Regions from separate parts of the Homo sapiens genome. Here regions 1 and 2 are each reported to be linked to region 3. The links are microRNA targets in miRTarBase. Many come from high-throughput screens and were not tested one by one. Region 3 holds a microRNA gene; each other region holds the end of a gene's coding sequence.
Evidence for each region. The annotated mature microRNA hsa-miR-4633-5p reads AUAUGCCUGGCUAGCUCCUC and lies in region 3 at 2,092-2,111, opposite strand. An mRNA with a match to its seed (bases 2 to 7 or 8) in the 3' UTR can be bound and repressed. Matches are read on the target gene's strand: a 7mer-m8 pairs with bases 2 to 8, a 7mer-A1 pairs with bases 2 to 7 and ends in A, and an 8mer does both.

Region 1: miRTarBase lists C18orf32 as a target of hsa-miR-4633-5p. The part of its 3' UTR that is shown has no 7-base or 8-base seed match.
Region 2: miRTarBase lists ZNF417 as a target of hsa-miR-4633-5p. Seed matches in the 3' UTR shown: 7mer-m8 at 1,012-1,018.

The regions. Positions count from the first base shown.
Region 1 is chr18:49,479,526-49,482,525 of GRCh38, reverse strand. C18orf32 (chromosome 18 open reading frame 32) reads left to right here. Exons shown (of 3, transcript NM_001035005.4): 3 at 116-3,000. The coding sequence ends at 181. RPL17-C18orf32 (RPL17-C18orf32 readthrough) reads left to right here. Exons shown (of 7, transcript NM_001199356.2): 7 at 116-1,348. Among named protein-coding and RNA genes, the nearest start is that of C18orf32, 6.2 kb to the left of the region's middle.
Region 2 is chr19:57,905,926-57,908,925 of GRCh38, forward strand. ZNF417 (zinc finger protein 417) reads right to left here. Exons shown (of 3, transcript NM_152475.3): 3 at 1-3,000. The coding sequence ends at 2,625. Among named protein-coding and RNA genes, the nearest start is that of ZNF417, 9.2 kb to the right of the region's middle.
Region 3 is chr5:129,096,584-129,099,812 of GRCh38, reverse strand. MIR4633 (microRNA 4633) reads right to left here and starts at 2,125; the gene lies at 2,047-2,125. The region is part of intron 1 of ISOC1 (isochorismatase domain containing 1); the gene reads right to left. It overlaps LOC124901060 (a long non-coding RNA gene), which reads left to right and starts at 3,034. Exons shown (of 2, transcript XR_007058926.1): 1 at 3,034-3,229.

The sequences.
Region 1 (3,000 bases), not on the chromosome of region 3:
CGATCTTCTGACCTCGTGATCTGCCTGCCTCAGCCTCCCAAAGTGCTGGGATTACAGGCATAAGCCACCGCACCCGGCTTGTTATGATAATTTCTAAAATGTTTTTTCATTTTAGGGTGCAGACATGAATGGATTACCAACAAAAGGACCAACAGAAATCTGTGATAAAAAGAAAGACTAAAGAAATTTTCCTAAAGGACCCCATCATTTAAAAAATGGACCTGATAATATGAAGCATCTTCCTTGTAATTGTCTCTGACCTTTTTATCTGAGACCGGAATTCAGGATAGGAGTCTAGATATTTACCTGATACTAATCAGGAAATATATGATATCCGTATTTAAAATGTAGTTAGTTATATTTAATGACCTCATTCCTAAGTTCCTTTTTCGTTAATGTAGCTTTCATTTCTGTTATTGCTGTTTGAATAATATGATTAAATAGAAGGTTTGTGCCAGTAGACATTATGTTACTAAATCAGCACTTTAAAATCTTTGGTTCTCTAATTCATATGAATTTGCTGTTTGCTCTAATTTCTTTGGGCTCTTCTAATTTGAGTGGAGTACAATTTTGTTGTGAAACAGTCCAGTGAAACTGTGCAGGGAAATGAAGGTAGAATTTTGGGAGGTAATAATGATGTGAAACATAAAGATTTAATAATTACTGTCCAACACAGTGGAGCAGCTTGTCCACAAATATAGTAATTACTATTTATTGCTCTAAGGAAGATTAAAAAAAGATAGGGAAAAGGGGGAAACTTCTTTGAAAAATGAAACATCTGTTACATTAATGTCTAATTATAAAATTTTAATCCTTACTGCATTTCTTCTGTTCCTACAAATGTATTAAACATTCAGTTTAACTGGTAGTTCATTTTCTTTTAAAGTCTATTGAAATATTCAAAAGGGAAATTTTTCACCACGTCAGAAGGCAGAATTTGGATGTTGTGATGGCATCTGTGTAGTGGTGGGACAACAATTACTATTGTTGCGTAACAAGACACTCCAAAATTTAGTGGTTTTCAGCAGCAGTGACTCGACTGGGCAGTTCTTTGCTGTTCTGGGCTCACTCATATGGCTGGCTGGGCCTGGGTCTGGACCTGGGCCGCTATGTGATTTTTATCTTGGGCTTTGAAAATTCAGTGTAGGGACCTATAAATATTCAAAGATGATGAGATGCATCCTTATATATTTTTTGTATTCACTCTGAAGCTGGGAAAGATTAAAAGGAACTCCTGCCCTTGGGTCCCTAATGAAGTCTGGGTCCTAACTCAGGCTCTATTAAGTTCTGTGGCTGGTCAAGTCACTGATTTACCTTGGGCTTTATTTGATATAAATCATGTAAATCAGCAGGTCTCAGCTTTTCTGTCCAAAGCCACCTGAGGGATAAGATAAATTCTCATTAGCAAATAAACTTTTTTAAGGTATAAATACTATTATAAAAATAACAGATATTTACAGTACAACAATGCAAGAGGATCCTAAATGAAAAGCGAATGTTTTTTCTCAACTCTCATTCCCTTATTCCAGCTCCACAGAGGTAACCAATTGTTTTTTTGTTGTTGTTGTTGTATGGTTTGTTTTTGTTAGACAGTAGTCTTTTCCTGAACAGTGCTGCTCCTTGTGGAGCAAGGCTAATTCATAGGCAGTGCATCCAGAGTCCGCCCCAGTTGATTTTGTGTGTAACCTTCTAGCAACTTTTTGAAAATTAATTTGTTCTTAAATATGCACATCATTTTTATTTATTTATGTTTTTGAGACAGGGTCTCACTCTGTCACTCAAGCTGGAGTGCAGCAGCATGATCACGGCTCTCTATGGCCTCGACCTGCAGTCCTGAAGTGATCCTCTCACCTTAGCCTCTCAAGTAGCTGGGACTACAGGTGCACACCACCATGCCCAGCTAATGTTTTTTGTAATTTTTTTTATAGAGACAGGGTTTCGTCATGTTGCCTGGGCTGATCTCGATCTCCTGGGCTCAAGCGATCCTCCACTTTGGCTTCCCAAAGTGCTGGGATTACAGGCATGAGCTACTACTGCACCTGGCCCACACATCATCTTTTAAAAATTAAGTAATATTGCAACGTTTCTAATTGTCCCTACTTCTTTGCTCCTCAAAGGTTTTACCTACTGAGCTGTGGGCTTTTTAAATTTATCTCCATATTTATAAATAAATTATAAAAATATAAAAATATAAACATTTTATTTTTTGAGACAGGGTCTCACTGTCACCCAGGTGCTGGAGTGCAGCGGCATCATCATAGCTCACTACAGCCTCCAACTCCTGGGCTCAAGTGATCCTCCCACCTCAGCCTCCTGAATTGCTAGGACTACAGGTGTGTGCCACCACGCCTGGCTAATTTTTTGTAGAGACGGGGTCTTGCTCTGTTGCCCAAGCGAGTCTCAAACTCCTGGCCTCAAAGTGATCCTCTTGCCTCAGCCTCCCAAAGTGTCGGGATTACAGGCATGAGCCACTGCCTGGCTATACTGTTATATTTTGAGCCATCAACTTCAGACATTGTTTCCCATAATGGTTGAGATGCCGCTATCTTACACTGCCTCTGCTCCTCCCACACATCCTCCCAAGTGCTTTTGTAAATTTTGCTTACATCATCAGTGTTCATAGCATGAGTGTGCCAGGTGTCTTTCATTTGCCCCTCCCAAGTCTCTGCTCCCCTCATCCTGCTTTCAGCCCAAGGAAGCTGTATAGACATCAACAGACTTCCCATGTCTCTGGGTTCTGCTGGGTTTGGCCAATAGCGATCCATAGCAGGAGATGGCTGGAGGGAGGAGAATGAAGGCAGAGTGTTTATTCCCTTGGCCCTCTCTCTGCAAGGTCACCTCAGGCCAACTGTTCCTCAGCCAGAAGTCACTGTGCCTCAAGGAACACTCCAGGCAGCCAACTCCACCTGACTTCTTTTATTTTTCCTAACCTGTCCTTCACCCTGCCCTTTTGGGCCCAGGGGTGGTGGTATTTCTGTTACTGGCTCTGGGCTACTGCTT
Region 2 (3,000 bases), not on the chromosome of region 3:
ACTGAAAGTTTTGCCTATATAAACTGTAGTTTATGAAGAAAAAAGTTTTGTTTTTTTTGAGGCAGGGCCTTGCTCTTTTGCCCAGGCTAGAGTGCAGTGGTACCATCTCAGCTGATTGCAACCTCCATTTCCGAGGAAGGCTCCTTAATTTCCCAATTATAAAGGTTTTGTGGGAACATAATTGGGTGTAATAAAATAAAAATTTACACCACAAGAGACAGACACATACTCTTCAGGGTGTATGGTCATAATTTGTTTGAACGAGCCCTTTTAAACTTCTAGATATCATTGAAACTCCTATGTTGATTAAAAATCATCAAAGATCTTTCCAGTGAGAAGGATGAAAAATATTACTGAGAATGAAGTATCACTATTTCATGTATGTGCCTGTATGTGCTTATATAACATGCTGTAATACAAGGTGACATTTAGGGGCTGAGACTGTTAACATCTGACTGTACCTTGCTATTTGTAACTTACAATCTTATTCACATTTCTCAAGTGCCATGCCTTTAGGTGCCTATACATCATGCTATCATAGGATTTCTAGGGATAAGCCGAGTGCCGTGGCAGATGCCTGTAATCCCAGCACTTTAGGAGGCTGAGGGGGGTGGATCATGAGGTCACAAGTTTGAGACCAGCCTGGCTAACGTAGTGAAAGCCCATCTCTACTAAAAATACAAAAATTAGGTGGGCGTGGTGGAGGGAACCTATAGGCCCAGCTACTTGGGAGGCTGAGGCAAGAGAATCACTTGAACCTGGGAGGCGGAGGTTGCAGTGAGCCGAGACCATGCCATTGCACTTCAGCCTGGGTGACAGAGTGAGACTCTGTCTCAAAAAAAAAAAAAAAAAAAAATTTAGGGATAATATCTAAGCCCATATAACCTGCTGTTATAAAAGGTAACATTTAGGGATTGAGATTTTTTTTTTTTTTTTTTTTTTTTTTTGAGACGGAGTCTCGCTCTGTCACCAGGCTGGAGTGCAGTGGTGCAATCTCGGCTCACTGCAACCTATGCCTCCCAGGTTTAACGAATTCTCCTGCCTCAGCCTCCCAAGCAGCTGGGACTACAGGCACCCACCACTATGCTTGGGTAATTTTTGTATTTTTAGTAGAGACAGGGTTTCACCATATTGTCCAGGGTGGTCTTGAACTCCTGACCTTGTAAGCCACCCACCTCAGCCTCCCAAAGTGCTGGGATTACAGGCCTGAGCCAAAACACCCAGCTGAGATTCTTCATATAGCTGATTATCTTGCCATTTCTAACTTACAAGCTTTATCCACATTTCTTAACCTTTTGTTTCACTAAATGGGACAGGAAGTTTTAACTCTTGTATCCATGAAGCATCTTAGTAAAATAACAGATATTCCATTTGCAAATTATGCTCCCCAAAAAACACAAACACATATGTAAAAAATGTTATAAAGACATTAAGTGTCCACTCAATAACTTTGATTCAAACTATCTTCATGTTCTTCACTTCACAAGATAAAGCTCTTAAAATGGACTTTGTGAGGTTCCATGTGTTTGGTCAGTCATGAGAGGAAGAATAATTCAGAGTGAGAGGAAACAAGAGAGATTCTAGGCAGCCCTCAGGGAAGCTGAGGAGGTGGCTCCCTGCCTCCGGGTCCCTCAGAATGTCCCATCTCCCTGTCAGTATCAGTGTCCCAGATAATCTTCTTCTGACTGGGACATTTCCCAATTTGGGAACAGTGGTTACTTGCCAAATTCACATTTACGGCCAAAACTGTGGCTACAGTGTCGACATTCATGCAAGTGGGGAAATGGGCATGTGGCCCCTGAAAAAAGATTCTGGATTCCATAATCTCACCTTGCTGGCAAGAAACTACCATTTCAGCAGAAAGTGCAATGACAGTGTCTGCACAGGGACTGGAGATTATCTCCAGAAAAGAGCTTGGAGTGAGGAAATTAGTTAATGTGGATGAATGACGTTACCCATGGAGAATGAAGTAAGTAGCTAGAAGACAAAAGCCTCAGAACACATAAATCTCAACGGGTACTGAGTAGAGGACTCGGAGCTCTGAGGTAATTGGAGCTCATGGCTATCCCAGAACTTGGATAACATAAAGTTCTTGTTTCTACAAAGTGTGTATCCTTTCCATATGTGAGAACTCTGAGGAAATACAAACTTGGAACAAAAGAAATAGTAAGGTAATCTTAGAAAGATGTTGAATAGAAAGCAAGCTACGGTGACATCTTAACTGTTTCACTGCCCAGCAATCTATACGTATTGTCACTTGGGGACACTTATGATTCCACATGAAGTGGATAACCAGCTCATAGCTCTTGTGGTACTGAAAACCAAGTATTTGGCCGGGCATGGTGTGGTGTACTCGTAATCTCAGCTCCTTGGGAGGCTGAGGTAGGAGAATCACTTGAACCTGGGAGGCCCAAGTTGCAGTGAGCCAAGATTGCACCACTGCACTCCAGCCTGGGTGACAGAATGAGACTCCGTTCCAATGCGAAGTCTCTTAAGACCAAGGAGAGCAGACATTCTGATGTTTCCCAGATTGACAGCACTCATAAGGCCTTTCTCCAGTATGAACTCTCCTGTGTTTAATGAGACGGGATGTTTCAGCAAACGATTTCCCATATTCACTGCACTCATAAGGCCTTTCTCCTGTGTGAACTCTGATGATGAAGGAGGGTAGAGCTTCGCTGAAATGTTTTTCCACATTTGGTACATTCATAAGGCCTTTCTCCAGTGTGAATTCTCCTGTGTTTAATGAGACTGGAACATTCAGCAAAGGATTTTCCACATTCACTGCACTTATAAGGCTTTTGTCCAGAATGAACTCTTTTATGAACATGAAGCGCAGAGCTGGAAAGAAATGATTTCCCACATTCATTGCATTCATACGGCCTTTCTCCAGTGTGAATCCTCTGATGTATAGTCACGCAGTTCTTATTACCAAATAATTTCCCACATACCTCACACGCATATGGCCTTTCTCCAGTGTGAACTCTCTCATGAACGAGA
Region 3 (3,229 bases):
AATCAATCAATAAATGTATTAGGCTATTCTGATGTCCCTCATATATTAAACACTACACTCTAAAACTTAGCATATGTTAAAAAACTTACCCTCTAATGAGGATAAATATTTACAATTAAGATCCCTTTAGAAACCTATAAATATATTTATAGGAATGCTAACATTGCATAACTTGTTATGTTAACATAATATGCAGAATAAGGAAAGTGAATCATAAAGTGATTTATAAAGTAGATTTCCAGATGTTACCAAGACCTTACCAAATCACTAAGACAAGATTGTTCCTGGAAAAACAGATCAGGGACTTTTTAATTTAGGCTGTGAAATAATACTTATTGGCTCTTATTTTTACAACATATTCACCTATTGTGAACATTGATGTCACTGGCATAAGGTTACAACCCTAGCTTATCAGTTAAGGTATGAGTTTTCTAAATCCCCAAGGGACGCCAGCTGTCTCCACCCACCCCAGGGGTGAGGACTGAAGGATTTCTTAAGACTGTGCCTCAGACTGGGGTGAAGGTGAAGCTAGACAAGCCCAGGACCACAATGACATTTGAATCTACATTGGGATTCCCTTGGTTAGCTAAATGCAAGAAAAAAAATTCAAAATTCAGATCATAGCTCCTACTCTCAAACACAGTTTATTTATAGGTAGCTCTAATGTATTCAGAAGGAGCAAAAAAGGATACAATGCTTTAGGTATTATTCTGGAATGTTAATTTTTTTTTAAGTGACACACATCAAACCAATGGGGTAGAGACAATACAACCACCTCAGGATCCAGCTGTCTCCTCTCTGAGCATTAGCTCATCTACCCCCTCTTCCTGCCACGCTCCTGAGGCAAAGGTTTTGTAATCAAAAACCACTACCTTCAAACTATCAAGCCAAAGGCGAACAAGGTTCCTTTCCTCCTGCCTTCCCTCCCTTCCCACCATGAACCTGTCAGTCTCTTCTAGCTATAAAATGTTCATGCCCCTGTTTAAAATAATAATAATAGTAATAAACTTCCAAGAAAATGAAAGCTGGAGCAAAATGCCCTGCCAGTTAACCATCTTGGGAAAAGGTCAAAATAACCTTCCCTGGAACGCCCTTATCTTCTGGCCACAGAAAGCTGCCAAAGCCTTCCCTGCTATGTACAGAAGTAAAATCCCCTCACTGGCATCCTTCTTACACTGTCCATTTCCTCCTCTCTTCTCTGCAGGCTCTGTCTTTCCTGGCCACAGGCTGGAAAATGCACTGGTGGTAGCATGATACAACATTTATGTAAATTTCCATAGTTAAATGTTTCCTTTACCTAAAACTTACAAAATACCTTTTGAAAAATTAAAACTTTTAAGTCATAAAAATGACGTAAATCCCCACTACATAATCCTCTCATTTATATTCTTTCCCGTGTCTCAAAATTCATCAGATCTCAAGCATTTGGCAAAGCTGCAGACATACAAACCAAGCATGAAACATGAGCTATGCCTTCATCTACCTGAGCTGTCGGCAGACATTGTTACTTTGACAGAATATTTAAGAAAAGAAGTCACCAAAAACTTACCACAGCCTAATACTGGCAATGGGGGGTCTTAAAGATCAGTTCTCATAGAACCACTAACAAGCACGGGTGCAGTGTGGCAAAGGCAGCCACTGTGTTTCACAAGGTCATCAGCCACAGCTGTCAGAATAAGCACGAAGGCAACTCATACCACGGCGCAAATGAAGAATACATTCTAGACTAACAGTACGTGAGCCAGGGCCACAGAGGCTCCAGGGCCCAAGTGTGGAGAAATAATAAATCACTATTTACGCAATGAACTACATGTGGCCAAACTTGTGCTCTTTGTCCCTGCCTTCAAGAAGGGGCCAACCATCCCCAGTAACATGGACTCACCGATAGGCCACCTTGAGTCTTCCTAAGTGACAAGCATTTATTCCAAAGAACAAGGAGCAGCACCAAGACAAATGAACAAACAAGAGCTCAAGTTTGTGACTTGTTTTCCAGACTGCTCAATTCTCATTAAACATGCAAGCAGTAGTGCTGTGTTCGGCTGTAAGTGACGCTCTGCATATGCCTGGCTAGCTCCTCCACACGCATTTGTGGAGGAGCTAGCCAGGCATATGCGGAGACTTGCCATGTAACCTGCAGCAAGTTACTCACCTCCACCTCCCTATGTTCTTCTGCACTTCCTCAAAGTGAAAGTTCATTTATTAGGTAAGGAACAAGAATTGAATCCAAGTTTGCATTCACTGTGCCAGGCATTTAAAGCTGCCACTCACATGTTGTGGAATGAACTGTATGGTCTCTTACAGCCATAAAACATCCAAGTCTCTAGGATTATGCTGTTAGGTTCCAAAGAATATAGTGTACAGTAGTCATGAGAAATATCATGACTTTCTGAGATTATACACACATATGCATATATATGTATGTGTGTATATATATCTCTCTCTTCTCATATAGACATAAATCGGTATCAGAAGGTATATACGATACACAGTGTGTGCATATTTATGTATCTATCCCCTTCCTTTATCTACCTCTAAGCTAGGAGAGGCATCAGGCTGAAGAAGTCAAAGTATAACTACTAAAATGAGATAATATAGAAGAGAAAATATTTTTAAAGAATTAAAAATATAAAGCTATATAAATGCAAAAATATAACTAATGCTTAAGAATTATTAGACTAGTTGGCGGAAAAATTTCTTCTGAAGAGGGAGTAGAGTAATGCTATTGTTATTTTAAACCTCACCAAAAAAAAGTGAACTATACATAATCTCCTATACCAAGCAAAACACTGCAAAAGCTACAGGTGACCAGAATTATATAACGCCTTTTGAGAATGTACAAGCGTTTTCAGGTACATACATTTCATTAATTTCTAGAATGTTTTTAAGAGTTGCCAGACCAAGGCCCTGAAATTTTCAAATATAAAAATCCTATCTTGGAAGGCGGGGACTCTTACAGAGCTGGGGCCTAGTTTAGAATAGCATTATCTTAGATAAGAGCCCAGCCTCCCTCCAAGCCGTAACAGGAAATGCTTCATAAAGAAGTCTGCATCCTTAGTCCCAGACCTCCGCAGTTAGTATTTGGATTCTAGCCTTTATAAATGGACTTCTCAAAGGTGCATCCAACATCTGAGTATTCTGGCAGCAGTAACGTAAAAGGACTGACAAGGAAGGCTGCAGAGAGGTGTCAGACACGAAAACGCTTGAAGACATAAAAATGAGGAGTCTTAAG